Linked DNA regions of Homo sapiens. Changing the gene in region 1 together with any one later gene gives a genetic interaction. Each region holds a gene or a part of one and is shown in the gene's direction. Other genes may lie near its edges.

Region 1 (3,675 bases):
TGTGCAGATTTGTGATATGGGTAAATTGTGTGCCACAGGGGTTTGGTGTACAAATAGTTTTGTCACCCATGTAATCAGGATAATACCCAATAGGTAGTTTTTTAGTCCTCACCCCCTGCCACCTTCTACCCTCAAATAGGCCTCAGTGTCTATTGTTCTGTTTTTTGTGTCCATGTATACTCATTGTTTATCTCTCACTTATGAGAATATGTGGTATTTGATTTTCTGTTCCTGCATAAATTGGCTTAGGATAATGGCCTCCAGTTGCATCTACGTTGCTGCAAAGGCCATAATCTGAAAATATGAAGAAAAAAGTTGCTTTTAATACCAAGTTGGGATCACTTTATTTTTAATGGAGGATCATTTTTTACCCACCATCTCATCCCCTGCTAAACCACAGGAATCATGAAAAACTAAGCTTTATAGGACTTTTCTTTATAATAGAAATTGGAACCTATAATAAGCAAATATGTTAGCTACATGTTTGGGTGAACTCCAGGACACTAAGAAAAAAAAAAAAGGAATGTTTCAGGATTCCCTTGAGACTGTATTTTCTCTTTATTCAGATTTGTTTTCTAATGAAATGAAAAAAATAATAGGGAAGAAATAGAAAACACCAACTGGTACTAAAAGTGAACTTACCAGCCTGGGCAACATGGTGAAACTCCGTCTCTACAAAAACTACAAAAATTAACCGGGCATGGTGGCATGCGACAGTAGTCGCAGCCTCTTGGTGGGCGGGGGTAGGGGGTGGGTCTGAGGCAGGAGGTTCACTTGAGCTCAGGAGGTCAAGGCTGCAGTCAGCCATGATCGTGCCACTGTAGTCCAACCTGGGTAACAAAATGAGACCCTGTCTAGTGATTTTAGCTGTTTAAATTGGGAGAAACTGCCTCCTGTGTATCACTTTCAGGGCACCTTTTTATCTGTTTTCAGGGCACCTTTTTCTCTGTTTTCGTAGTTAAAAATAAGAGTGAAGGTTGGAAACGCCTCCCCATATTCATCTGTAGCTGATTAATACTCTTTGGAATACATTCCTACTTTGAATTCCCATGGGGTATTTCTGGTAAGGCATGACATTCCAGGTTTATGGCTCCAGGCTTATAATTAATAATTATTATAGAGAATTATTTTTCAACAGAGTGAAATCACCAGGGTTCAAATCTAGATTCTACCACTTATCTACTAATATAATCCTTTGTATGCAAATTACCCTCTGCAGGTATTGTCAATGCCCTATCTGTATATTGGGGTTAATGTAATACCAACTTAGAGAGTACTCATGAGAATTAAATGTGTTCAGCTTGTAAAATATTTAGCATAATGCCTGGCGCTAGTAAATGCTCAGTAAATGCTAGCTATACAGAGTAACTTCAGAAATTTTAAGGGTAGCATTTGTTGACTATTTCAAAAGCCAGCTGCTTAATATAGCAGGTTTTTAATTGCCTTCAGTTTCTGAAACTTACACTTTCAAAATAATGTCAGTTATTTAGGGACTTTCATGAAGTGCTAATTATTTTATTCAGGGAAGATCTGAATAGCAGAACTTACACCAAATATGGATGCTACAAAACTGAACGTAGTACATAAGAGCCTAGACCTCATGGAGTTTGGAAAGGAGTGCTATAAACAAATAAATATACTGCATGATAAATACAAGGTACCATGAGTGAAACAGAATGACCTGTTACTTTTTTTCTGAAAAAGATGACATTTAAGCTGAAACCAGAATGAGAAAGCCACTAAATTTGATATGAATGCCATAGTTGGTTAATTAGTAGTTGGGTGGTACATTTTTACATATGCTAGAACATTACTTATATTCTGAATTGACCATGTAGGTCTATAGTCTTTATAGTATTTTGGCTTTGATTTGAAGGAATTTTTTTTTTTTTGAGGCGGGGTCTTGCTCTGTTGCCCAGGCTGGAGTGCAGTGGGCGATCTCAGCTCACTGCAAGCTCCGCCTCCCGGGTTCACGCCATTCTCCTGCCTCAGCCTCTGCGAGTAGCTGGGACTACAGGCGCCCGCCACCATGCTAGGCTAATTTTTTTTATTTTTAGTAGAGACGGAGTTTCACCGTGGTCTCGATCTCCTGACCTCGTGATCCGCCCGCCTCGGCCTCCCAAAGTGCTGGGATTACAGGCATGAGCCACTGTGCCCAGCCAGATTTGAAGGAATACTTTTAATAATGAACTAGCCCTCTGTGATTCATTTTCTGAAAAATTTTACAAGTTTTTATGATTTTTTAATTTTATGTTTTTGTTTTTATTTTGATGTGGTCAAACGACAGTCTTTAGAAGTAACTGAAAAAGATTTTTAAAAAAATTATAGAGTGTTTACTCATTAGACTATAATAAATATTCAATTTCTTTTTTTTTACTTTTCTGTGGCTTAATTTTTGTCTATTTATATTTAAAGTGAATTTTTTAGTTAAATTTTATTTTCCCAGATAGCTAACCATGTCTTTGCACCTTATAATGAATAATCCTTTTGCTAATTGATTTTTTTAACTTCTAATCCTTTAATTGATTTTTTTTTGTCAAGAGGTTGTTTTTTAAAATATCTCTCCCAGCGTTTTTTTTTTTTTTTTTTTTTTTTTTGAGACGGAGTCTTGCTCTGTCGCCCAGGCTGGAGTACAGTGCCGCAATCTCGGCTCACTGCAACCTCCGCCTCCCGGCTTCATGCCATTCTCCTGCCTCAGCCTGCCGAGTAACTGGGACTACAGGCACCCGCCACCACGCCCAGCTAATTTTTTGTATTTTTAGTAGAGACGGGGTTTCACCGTGTTAGCCAGGATAGTCTCAATCTCTTGACCTCGTGATCCGCCCGCCTTGGCCTCCCAAAGTGCTGGGATTACAGGCGTGAGCCACCATGCCTGGCCACTCCCAGCAATTTCTTTATATAAGTATATCCTATCTTTTTTTTGAAAAACTAATATATCGGTATGGTCTTATATTAATAAGTCAATTAGTTGATTATGGACTTAAATATGTTATAATATGTAGTAAATTCAGTTCTTCCTCTTTTTTCTCCGTTAATTTCCTTAGCTTATTTTCATTTATTTGTTTCTCTAAATAAACTTTAGACACATTCTGTCATGTTCCAAAAATAATATCTTACTTTTGATTGGAATTATATAAACGTATATGTTTTCTGACATTTTTGTAATTTCTACACAGAATTAATATTACTTGAAGAAACACTTGGCCGGGCATGGTGGCTCATGCCTGTAATCCCAGCACTTTGGGAGGCCAAGGTAGGCAGATCACTCGAGGTCAGGAGTTAGGGACCAGCCTGGCCAACATGGTGAAACCCCGTCTCTACTAAAAATACAAAAAAAAAAAAAATAACCAGGCATGGTGGTGCATTCCTGTAATCCCAACTACTCAGGAGGCTGAGGCAGGAGAATCTCTTGAACCTGGGAGATAGAGGTTGCAGTGAGCCGAGATCGCACCACTACACTCCAGCCTGGGTGACAGAGTAAGCCTGTCTCAAAAAAAAAACAAAAAACACTTACTGAGTTTCCAAAGTTAATATTTTGTTGATATTGTTTATGGTGAAATCACTTAGAATTTTTTTAAAGCCTTATGCTCCTAATACTCTTTAAGCTTTAAAAATTATATTTTCCAGTTTTTCTATAATGAATGCATATTGTATTTACATTTAATTTTTATAATT
Region 2 (3,675 bases), on another chromosome or scaffold:
GGCTGAGGGCTTGTCTCCTACATGGGCTGTCTTCTCAACTGCTATCTCATTGTTCCTTATTTGCCTCATTCTCTGGTGGGTGAGCCCTTTAGGGGCACAGATCGGGTCCTGTTTGATCTTTGTGTGTTTAGGACCTGGCATGGCACTCAGCATAGTAGGCTCCCTACTGAAGTTGTTAAAGGAGAGGGCAGACATTCAAACCTGCCCTTAAAGCAAACACCAAACACCTGCCCACTTCTTTTTTTTTTTTTTTTTTTTTTTGAGATGGAGTCTTGACCTCTCACCCAGGCTGGAGTGCAATGGTACGATCTTGCTCACTGTAACCTCCGCCTCCTGGGTTCAAGTGATTCTCCTGCTTCAGCCTCCCTAGTACCTGGGATTACAGGTGTGTACCACCACGCCCATCTAGTTTTGTATTTTTAGTAGAGACGGATTTCACCATGTTGGCCAGGCTGATCTCAAACTCCTGACCTCATGATCTGCCTGCCTCAGCCTCCCAGTGCTGGGACTACAGGCATGAGCCACTGTGCCCAGCCTTGCCCACTTCTTTTTTTTTGTTTGTTTTTGAGACAGAGTTTTGCTCTTGTTGCCCAGGCTAGAGTGCAATGGCACAATCTCAGCTCACCACAACCTCCGCCTCCCGAGTTAAAGAGATTCTCCTGCCTCAGCTTCCCAAGTAGCAGGGATTACAGGCATGTGCCACCACGGCCGGCTAATTTTTTGTATTTTTATTAGAGATGGGGTTTCTCCATGTTGGTCAGGCTGGTCTCGAACTCCCAACCTCAGGTGATCCACCCGCCTCGGCCTCCCAAAGTGCTGGGATTACAGGTGTAAGCCACCATGCCTGGCCCTCGCCCACTTCTTTTAACACACACTTCCCTTCCTTTCTTCACACACTTTGGATGTCGTGAACCTATGATTCAAACTTAAATCCATCTGATCCCACAGCTTGAGCCATATCTTTGGTCCATCCCCCAGAAAGTTGCTCACAGACAAATGGGAGAGCAAACAGGTCAATAGGATCAATGTTACAGTACGGATGATGGGAAGCAAGTCACAAACTCAGTTTCCAGAAGTTAAGACTCTCCAAATCTCCATTTCTGGTGAAGGGTTTAATGGGACAATGAGGGCGCGGCCCTGACTAGCCACAGTCCGGCTGACTGGCTTCTGCCGTGTGTGTATCTGATGGCAGGACAGAACGACCGTGCTTCTGCAGTTGTGTGTGGTGAGGCAGCACCGACCCCAGACCAGTACTTAGCAAGGATCAGTGGAAGCAAATTTGACTCTGCCTGTGGATACTGTTCTGTATGTCTGCACAAGGCTCGTTCCTGAGTGAAGGTGGCTTAAAAAAGTGGTGGCAGCAGCTGTTCAGACCAGTGGTATGAGCAGCCCTCACATGTGTATTCCACAGATGGGGTCTTTAACATTCCCTGGTCCTGTGCCTGCAGTACTTGGATATCCTCTGCTCACCTTGAGGCTGGTCTTTCTTTCTTTCTCTCTCTCTCTCTCTCTCTCTCTCTTTCTTTCTTTCTTTCTTTCTGTTTCTTTCTTTCTTTCTGTCTTTCCTTCTTTCTTTCTTTCTTTCTTTCTTTTTCTTTCTTTCTTTCTTTTTCTGTCTTTCTTTCTGTCTTTCTGTCTTTCTTTCTGTCTTTCTTTCTTTCTTTCTTGACGAAGTCTTGCCTTGTCGCCCAGGCTGGAGTGCAGTGGTACGATCTCGGCTCACTGCAAGCTCCCGGGTTCATGCCATTCTCCTGCCTCAGCCTCTCGAGTAGCTGGGACTACAGGCTCCTGCCACCACGCTTGGCTAATTTTTTGTACTTTTAGTAGAGGCAGAGTTTCACCATGTTAACCAGGATGGTCTCCATCTCCTGACCTCGTGATCCGCCTACCTTGGCCTCCTTTTTTTTTTTTCTTTTGAAATGGAGTCTTGCTCTGTTTCCCAGGCTGGAGTGCAGTGATGCCATCTTGGCTCACTGCAACCTCCGTCTCCTGGGTTCAAGTGATTCTCCTGCCTCAGCCTCCCGAGTAGCTGGGACTACAGGCGTACGCCACCATGCCCAGCTAATTTTTATATTTTTAGTAGAGACGGGGTTTCGCCATGTTGGCCAGGATGGTCTTGATCTCTTGACTTTGTGGTCTGCCTGCCTTGGCCTCTGAAAGTGCTGGGATTACAGGTGTGAGCCACTGTGCCTGGGCAATTTTTGATTTTTTTGTAGAGACGGGGTCTCCCTATGTTGCCGAGGCTTAATAAACTTATTCTTTCAGAATACTTTTAGAAAAGTTACGCAGATAGTACAGAGTTTTCTCACAATCCCTCACACATAGTTTTCCCTGTTATTAACATCTTATGTTAGTACGTATTTTACATTAAAGTCCATCCTTTATTCAGATTTCCTTAGATTTTTACCTGATGTCCTTTTGCTGTTCCAGGATCCCATGTTACCTATATTCATTGTCTCTTTAGGCTCCTCTTGCTGTGCCAGTTTCTCAGACTTTTATTGTTTTTGATGACCTTGACAGTTTTGAGGAGTGCTGGGCAAGCATCTAAAGAGGATCTCGGCCAGGCGCGGTGACTCACGCCTGTAATCCCAGCACTTTGGGAGGCCGAGGTGGGTGGATCACTTGAAGTCAGGAGTTCGAGACCAGCCTGGCTAACATGGTGAAGCCTCATCTCTATTAAAAATACAAAAATTAGCCAGGCATGGTGGTACGCACCTGTAATCTCAGCTACTCAGGAGGCTGAGGCACAAGAATCGCTTGAACCAGGAGGCAGAGGTTGCAGTGAGCCAACATCGTGTCACTGTGCTCCAGCCTGGGCTGGAGACAGAATGAGACTCCGTCTCAAAAAAAATAATAAAAAATAAAGAGAATCTCTTCTCAACTGGGATTTGTCCAGTATTTTTCTCTTTTTAACAGAGTCTTGCTCTGTCAGCCAGGCTGGAGTGCAGTGGTGCAATCTCGGCTCAAGCCATTCTCCTCAGCCTCCCAAGTAGCTGGGACTACAGAAATGCACCACCACGCCTGGCTAATTTTTGTAGAGACAAGGTTTCACCATGATGTCCAGGCTGGTCTCAAACTCCTGAGCTCAAGCGATCTGCTCACCTCAGCTTCCCAAAGTGGTGGGATTACATGCGTGAGCTAACACGCCTGGCTGTGTCCAGTGTTTTTTTCATAAGTAGACTGTGCCAAGTTTTGGGAAGGAGGACCAGAGAGGTAAAGTGCTATTTTCATCACATCATGTCAAGGGTACATACAATCCACAAGCCTTTCCATGACTGATGTCAACCATGATCACTTGGCTGAGGTGATGTGTGTGAGGCTTCTCTGTAAAGTTGTTCTCCCCTTCCCCTTTCCATGCTGCATGCACCCTTTGGAAGAAAGTCACTGTGTAGCCCACACCTAAGGAACAGGGACTTATGTTCATGTTCCCCTTGTTGAGGGCGGAGTAGCTACATGAGTTACTAAATTATTTTTTCTTTTTCTGTTTTTTTTGAGATGGAGTCTCACTCCATCGCCCAGGCTGGAGTGCAGTGGCGCAATCTCGGCTCACTGCAAGCTCCGCCTCCCGGGTTCACGCCTTTCTCCTGCCTCAGTCTCCCGAGTAGCTGGGACTACAGGCCTATAGGCGCGCGCCACCACACCCGGCTAATTTTTTTGTATTTTTTTTAGTAGAGA
Region 3 (3,675 bases), on another chromosome or scaffold:
CTGGAGGGGACCCAGAAAAGGGGTACCACAGGGGGACCAAGCCAGGAGCCCCCGCCCAGTCCTCAGCTCAGGGCTTGGGCAGGAGGGTGGAGCTCTCTAGGAGCTGTGGGGCCGTGCAGGTCCATACAGGGCAGATCCTCAGCCAGCCTGTCAGGGCCGCGGTGCAGCACGCCCGAGGCCTTCAGTCCTAGCGCCGTGGTGAGCCCAGGGTGGGGCTGGGAAGGGGCTAGGGAGCTGGGCCTTCCCAACGGCGTGCGTGACCACCTTGCTTCCCTGGCTGCCCGCCCTGTGCGGATCCCTGACTGGGCCTGGCCTGTCCTTATGTCTTCTAGATGAGACAAGGGGCCTTCCTGGTGAACACAGCCCGGGGTGGCCTGGTGGATGAGAAGGCGCTGGCCCAGGCCCTGAAGGAGGGCCGGATCCGCGGCGCGGCCCTGGATGTGCACGAGTCGGAACCCTTCAGGTGCCCCCACGGCCAGTGCCGCCCCCCTGCTCTTCCCTGTCCACCATCCTGCCGGCCTTGACCTCCAGACGGCGCCTCTGCCAGGCCGGACACTTGCCTGTACTCAGGCCTCTCGCTGGCCAGCAGTGGGGGAGTTTGCCGCCCGCTGCGGGGTGAGGATGGAGCCACGGGCTCTAGGCCTGCCTTGCCTCGGTCCTGTGAGGGGCTGCTCAACCTCCTCAGCCCTTCTTTGGGCAGGGCTCCTGACCAACCAGGAGAGAGTGAGGCCCCAGTGTCTGTGAGTGGTCCCCATGGGCCCTGGCCATGGAGTCATGGCATCCCGTCCAGACCTGCAGCCCCTACAGCACCTTGGGACCCCAGGCAGCCCTGGGTTGGATGTTCAGCCGCAAGAGGAGACACCCCCACAGGGGCAGTATCAGCCTGCAGCTCCTGGGGCTACAGACCCTTTGGCTGGAAGGGGCCAGGCAGCATGTCCCCCCATCAGGGCTCCTCCCACGAGGGACTTGGAGATTAAATCCCTTGGGCTCCCACACCCGCCGCTGTCAGGAGCCCCTGGTGTGTCTGATGGTCCCGGGGCTGTGCTCTTGAGCTCAGCCAGCCTGCCGAGCAGAGCAGGGCCGTGGGGTCTGTGGTTCCCAGGCAGGGCCCCCCACAGGGGGTTCCAGTGCCCAGCCACCTCCCCTCCGTACCCAGCCACAGCACTCAGGCTGCACTGACCATGCCTGTGCTGTTCCCAGCTTTAGCCAGGGCCCTCTGAAGGATGCACCCAACCTCATCTGCACCCCCCATGCTGCATGGTACAGCGAGCAGGCATCCATCGAGATGCGAGAGGAGGCGGCACGGGAGATCCGCAGAGCCATCACAGGTGGGCGTGGGGGCCGCTCGGTCAGGCCTGGGGGTCCCTTCCTGCCAGCCCCAGATGCTCATGGGCTCGCATCCGCCTGGCAGCCAGGCCCATGTTCTGCCAGCTCAGGGCCCGTGGTGCTCTCACTGCACCCCCAGCAGGGACCTCTAAGGCCAAAGTCAAGTTGAGCCCTGGCGTCGTGTCTTACACACAGGACCTGCTGGGAAGTTGCTGGGCTGAGCAGACAGGTCCCTCAGCAAGCTGGGCACGTGCTCTGGGCTGGGGGTCCCCACGCTGCAAGGGTGCCAGTGCCCAGAGAGACAGGACCCTGCCGTGCCTTGGGAGCCCCGGGGCTGAGAGGGAGGAGCACACTGCCAAGAATCCTGCTGCCCGTGTCTTCAACCCAGTGGGCCACGCTCCTGGGGCCCCCTCAGAGCCACAGCTGTTCCTTCCTCCTGCATCTCCCAGGCCGGATCCCAGACAGCCTGAAGAACTGTGTCAACAAGGACCATCTGACAGCCGCCACCCACTGGGCCAGCATGGACCCCGCCGTCGTGCACCCTGAGCTCAATGGGGCTGCCTATAGGTGAGCAGGCCCGCTGGCCCAGAACAGCCTCCAGGAGGGCCCCAGGCTTCCCCTGGATCCCAGCACAGCCCCTGGTGGGAGGGGCGGCGTCTCCACTGACTGACCTGGAGGATCTGGGTAGAATTGGTAAGGCCAACCTCACCTGAAAGGCCCATGAGAACCAGGGCCTCTTGGAAGGAGCCTGGGCTGGGGTGGCCTTCAGGGCTCAGTGGACACAGGAGTGCCATGGGCACGGGGCCTGTGGGAGGAGGGGGCTTTGGGTGAGGCGAAGACCTCATGTTCAAGTCACCTGGAGACACCAGGGCTCCCCTCCCCAGCCCTGAGAAGTAGCTGCCATAGGCAGGAACATCCGTGTAAAGGCCGGGATCCTTACCCTGACTGCTGGTCCTCCTGGAGAGGCCCCCTCGGTGCTGCCGATGCTAGGAGGGCAGGTGGGGCCTGGCCAGGCCGCCTACAGGTGGGCCTCACGGATGGACCCTCTCCCAGCAGGTACCCTCCGGGCGTGGTGGGCGTGGCCCCCACTGGCATCCCAGCTGCTGTGGAAGGTATCGTCCCCAGCGCCATGTCCCTGTCCCACGGCCTGCCCCCTGTGGCCCACCCGCCCCACGCCCCTTCTCCTGGCCAAACCGTCAAGCCCGAGGCGGATAGAGACCACGCCAGTGACCAGTTGTAGCCCGGGAGGAGCTCTCCAGCCTCGGCGCCTGGGCAGAGGGCCCGGAAACCCTCGGACCAGAGTGTGTGGAGGAGGCATCTGTGTGGTGGCCCTGGCACTGCAGAGACTGGTCCGGGCTGTCAGGAGGCGGGAGGGGGCAGCGCTGGGCCTCGTGTCGCTTGTCGTCGTCCGTCCTGTGGGCGCTCTGCCCTGTGTCCTTCGCGTTCCTCGTTAAGCAGAAGAAGTCAGTAGTTATTCTCCCATGAACGTTCTTGTCTGTGTACAGTTTTTAGAACATTACAAAGGATCTGTTTGCTTAGCTGTCAACAAAAAGAAAACCTGAAGGAGCATTTGGAAGTCAATTTGAGGTTTTTTTTTTTGTTTTTTTTTTTTTTGTATGTTGGAACGTGCCCCAGAATGAGGCAGTTGGCAAACTTCTCAGGACAATGAATCCTTCCCGTTTTTCTTTTTATGCCACACAGTGCATTGTTTTTTCTACCTGCTTGTCTTATTTTTAGAATAATTTAGAAAAACAAAACAAAGGCTGTTTTTCCTAATTTTGGCATGAACCCCCCCTTGTTCCAAATGAAGACGGCATCACGAAGCAGCTCCAAAAGGAAAAGCTTGGGCGGTGCCCAGCGTGCCCGCTGCCCATCGACGTCTGTCCTGGGGACGTGGAGGGTGGCAGCGTCCCCGCCTGCACCAGTGCCGTCCTGCTGATGTGGTAGGCTAGCAATATTTTGGTTAAAATCATGTTTGTGACTGTAACCATTTGTATGAATTATTTTAAAGAAATAAAAATCCTGGAAAGAGCCAGCGTGCCCAGCATCTATTCTGGTGACTTTCTCTCATGAGGACACGGGTGAGCCTCAGTCCTGGCTCTGGTGACCTCCACGGCTCAGCTCAGCCTCTCTGAAGTGGGCGGCCTAAGAGAGACCCAGAGACAGTGCAGTGGCAGGTTGGGCAGTGGTCTCTGTGTGTACCGGGCCTGTCCCTCTGCCCACTGGGTCTGTGGGACGCTGTAGGGTCCTGGCTTGGAGGCGGCCTGCCCGCAGTGCCCCAGTGGGAGGGAAGCAGTGTGCCAGCCGGGCCGTTGTGTGGATGATGGTGTGACTGGCTGAGGTCCTGCC
Region 4 (3,675 bases), on another chromosome or scaffold:
TTTGTATTTTTTAGTAGAGACGGGGTTTCTCCATGTTGGTCAGGCTGGTCTCGAACTCCCAACCTCAGGTGATCTGCCTGCCTCGGCCTCCCAAAGTGCTGGGATTACAGGTGTGCGCCACTGCGCCCGGCCAACCCCTGCCTCCTCTTTACAGTCCTCTTCCACCCCGTCCCTGGCTGCTGTCCTCCAGCACTGGGGCTTCTGTTCGCTGCTGTACTGCACACTCCTGGAAAGGGACAGGCCATGTCCTACTCAAATTTGAATATTCACGGACCATAGACCTAGACAACAACTTCTAGATGAAAACATAGGATATCTTTGTGACCTCGGGCAAAGATTTTTCTCAGATGAGGACATAGAAGGCACTAACCATAGAAGAAAAAGCTGATAGATTGAGCTACATCACAGAGAAATGCTTTTGCTTATGAACACTCCCTTAGGGAAATAAATCGGCAACAGACCGGGAGGAAATATTTGCAAAACACATATAACTAAGGACTTGCATTCAGAATATATACAGAACTCGTACGACTCAGTAATAAAACAAACGATCTAATTTTAAAAACTGTCAGAAGATTTGAACAAGCGCTTCACAAAGGAAGATATACCAGTGGCCAGTGATCATATGAAAAAGGTTCAACATCATTAGTTTTCAGGGAAATGGAAGTTAAAGCCACCACAACGTCTAAAATAAAAAAGACTGATATCCTCATATGCTGGTGAGCAGGTGATATCCTCATATGCTGGTGAGCAGGTGATATCCTCATATGCTGGTGAGCAGGTGGAGCAACAGGGATTCTCACACATCGTCGGCGTCGGCATGACCTTTCACTGTAGGAAAAGTGGGGCTGGCAGAGATCCGATATGTAGGTAAATTGTGTGGGAGACACAGAGAAAGGACATTATGGAGTCCAGCATGGTTAGGAGAATTTAGGGAAAGAAGCAGCAGCTTCCCGCTGAAGGGCATGAGGACCAGCTTCTTGGAGAGGGTGGCATTGGAACCGAGTGTCCAAAGGGAGAGCCAGATGTGGCTGTGGAGGCATTGCAGGAGCAGAGAGCCTGTGTGCCCCGGCGGCGTCACCTAGTACAGCCTGCCTCATACGCTTCCACCCATGATTCTATGTCAAAGAGTATTTCATTGGACTTAGAGCAGCTATTTTGTTTATTTTTTCATTGATTTATTGTCATCCTCCCCACTGATTCTAAGCCAGGGGACTAGCCTGTCATTAGCATGGAGGCCCCCAGGGGTAGGAGTCTTAGCTTGTTTTGCTCACTGCTGTATCCTCTGCCACAAGAGTGGCTGGCACCAGAGTAGGGGTTCAGTAAATATGTGTTGACAGAATGAGAAAACAAATGAGTTAAAGTTGTTCAGTCTGGTGAGGTCATAGGTAGGCAGTGGGGCCTCGAATTTCCAGAGCAGGTTGGGGCTGAGGAGGGCCTGGCATGCCCGTGAAGGCATTTGGGCTCCATTTTACAGTCCTGAAGGGGTCTAGTGGTTTCAAGATGGGGATTGTCTTAGTCCGGTGAGGCTGCTGTCACAAAATGCCACAGACTGGGTGGCTGATAAACAATAGAAATGTATTGTGCACAGTTCTAGAGGCTAGAAGTCCATGATCCAGGTGCCAGCATGTTTGGTGTCTGGGGAGGGCCCACTTGCTTGTTCATAGACCGCCGTCTTTTCTCTGTGTTCTCACATGGTGCAACAGGTGAGCTAGCTCTTTAGGGTCTCTTCTTATAAGGGCACTAATTCCATTTGTGAGTGCTTCACCCCCTGACCCAATCACTTTTTAAAGTCCCCACCTCCTAATTCCATCACCTTGGGGGCTAGGCTTTCAACATGTGAATTTTGGGGAGGCACAAACATTCAAACCGTGGCTCGGGTGATGGGCTCTGAGCCATGTCTCAGGAACCTAAGTCTGGCAGGGGTGTGTGGACAGGTGAAGGAAGGTCGAGAGGTGGTAGGAAGACAATGCCGATTCCTCTTCCAGATGAGGGCTGACGAGGGCCCCATCGAGGCCATGGCAGTGAGCGCGGAGGAGAGGGGATGGAGGGAGGGTTTGGAGGCCCAAGTTGGAAGGGCGTTCAAGCTAAGGCTCTGTACTCACAGAAACATCAGGGAAACATTCATCGTCCAGGGCAGAGGAGGGAGAGAAGCGCTTCCTTAACAGTGCTCCTGGAGCAGCAGAGTGGGCTCTGCCTTCCTTCTTCTCTGAAGGCGCTGTGCAGTGGGCAGGGCCCAGGCCCAGAGTCAGGTCTTGTCCCTGATACTTCTTGGCTGTGTGATTTTGCACAGGTGATTAATGTGTCCCTGAGCTGTTAATGTCCTTATTTGCCAGCTCACAGGATGCTTGTATTGAGTAAATCAGGTACGTTAAGTCTGCTGCCATACAGTAGGTGCTGAAGAAACAGAAGTTGTTGGCTGGGCGTGGTGGCTCACACCTGTAATCCCAGCACTTTGGGAGACTGAGGCAGGCAGATCACCTGAGGTCAGGAGTTCGAGACCAGCCTGGTTAACATGGTGAAATCCCGTCTCTACTGAAAGTACAAAAATTAGCCAGCATGGGGGTGGGTGCTTGTAATCTCAGCTACACTGGAGGATGAGGCAGGAGAATCTCTTGAACCCGGGAGGTGGAGGTTGCAGTGAGCCAAGATCGTACCACTGCACTCCAGCCTGAGTGACAGAGTGAGACTCCGTCTCAAAAAAAAAAGAAAAGAAACAGAAGTTATGATTGCTACACTACAGGGTTGTTGGGAGGATTCAGTTGGGTCTTGGATGAAAGAAAACTTTTGTAAACCCTGAAGTCTTAAGTCTGATATCAGTGGTATTGTTAATAATTCATTACCCAGTTACATGATTCTGTGTCTTCTTGTGTTTTAAGAATTTTTGTGTTTGATGAGAGACCTTGATAAAATCCTGTTGTGTAGATGAACTCTTGTTCCTTTTCTTTTCTTTTGTGAAGGAACTTAAAGTAGAGGTCTCAGATTTGTAGCAGGTACCTTTGTAGCAGAGAATCTGGGCTTTATCAGCAGGAAGATGGGCTGCACCTGCAGCTGTGGCTGGGGAAGGTCTGAAGCCACCTGGGGCCTGCGCCATGCGCTGCTCACCAGGCTTTCCCTCTCCTTGATTCTCCTCGATTCTCCTCAGGTCTTTGTTTTATGAAGAGACATTTTTAATGTGTGCTTCTTTTTTCACTTATACGTTTCTTTCAAAAGCTTTTTACTTTCTCTCTGTGCTTCAGCTTTCTGAGGAAGAGAAAATTCAGCGCTACAGCATCCTCTCCGAGCTCTATGAGCTGATCGGCTTCCATCGCAAGTCTGCGTTCTTCAAGCGCGTGGCCGCCATGCAGTGCGTGGCCCCAAGCATCGCGGAGCCTGGGTGGAGGGCCTGCTACAAACTCCTCCTGGAAACGCTGCCCGGCTACAGTCTGTCGCTGGATCCCAAAGATTTCAGCAGAGGTACTGGAGTCCCCTTGCTGGCGCTAAGGTGTTGCTTTCTGTCTGATGGTCACATGCTGTTTCAGCCCCTGCCCTGAGTGGCAGACATCGTGGTTGGTGCTGGTGGCTCCAGAATGACTAGATCCCTGCCCTGGAGTTGGGTGCCTGCTGTAATCCGATTATAGGAAAAAGTACTGGTGCTTTGCCTTGGGGCTCGGATTCTTGAATCTTTATCAGTGG

What was found. A genetic interaction does not mean that the proteins touch.
Region 2: changes in TRAPPC13 (region 1) and RAB5C together harm fitness more than expected from each alone (negative genetic interaction), as found in Homo sapiens cells (one large-scale study listed by BioGRID).
Region 3: changes in TRAPPC13 (region 1) and CTBP1 together harm fitness more than expected from each alone (negative genetic interaction), as found in Homo sapiens cells (one large-scale study listed by BioGRID).
Region 4: changes in TRAPPC13 (region 1) and TRAPPC9 together harm fitness more than expected from each alone (negative genetic interaction), as found in Homo sapiens cells (one large-scale study listed by BioGRID).

Annotation. Positions count from the first base shown.
Region 1 is NC_000005.10:65,631,407-65,635,081, forward strand, and holds part of TRAPPC13 (trafficking protein particle complex subunit 13), read left to right. Parts: intron 1-3,675.
Region 2 is NC_000017.11:42,144,990-42,148,664, reverse strand, and holds part of RAB5C (ras-related protein Rab-5C), read left to right. Parts: intron 1-3,675. UniProt on the Homo sapiens protein: The small GTPases Rab are key regulators of intracellular membrane trafficking, from the formation of transport vesicles to their fusion with membranes.
Region 3 is NC_000004.12:1,211,131-1,214,805, reverse strand, and holds the end of CTBP1 (C-terminal-binding protein 1), read left to right. Parts: intron 1-332; coding exon 333-463; intron 464-1,200; coding exon 1,201-1,328; intron 1,329-1,775; coding exon 1,776-1,893; intron 1,894-2,035; exon of another isoform or gene 2,036-2,131; intron 2,132-2,266; exon of another isoform or gene 2,267-2,379; coding exon of another isoform or gene 2,380-2,382; coding exon 2,383-2,566; 3' UTR 2,567-3,361; downstream 3,362-3,675. UniProt on the Homo sapiens protein: Corepressor targeting diverse transcription regulators such as GLIS2 or BCL6. Has dehydrogenase activity. Involved in controlling the equilibrium between tubular and stacked structures in the Golgi complex.
Region 4 is NC_000008.11:140,370,745-140,374,419, reverse strand, and holds part of TRAPPC9 (trafficking protein particle complex subunit 9), read left to right. Parts: intron 1-3,239; coding exon 3,240-3,456; intron 3,457-3,675. UniProt on the Homo sapiens protein: Functions as an activator of NF-kappa-B through increased phosphorylation of the IKK complex. May function in neuronal cells differentiation. May play a role in vesicular transport from endoplasmic reticulum to Golgi.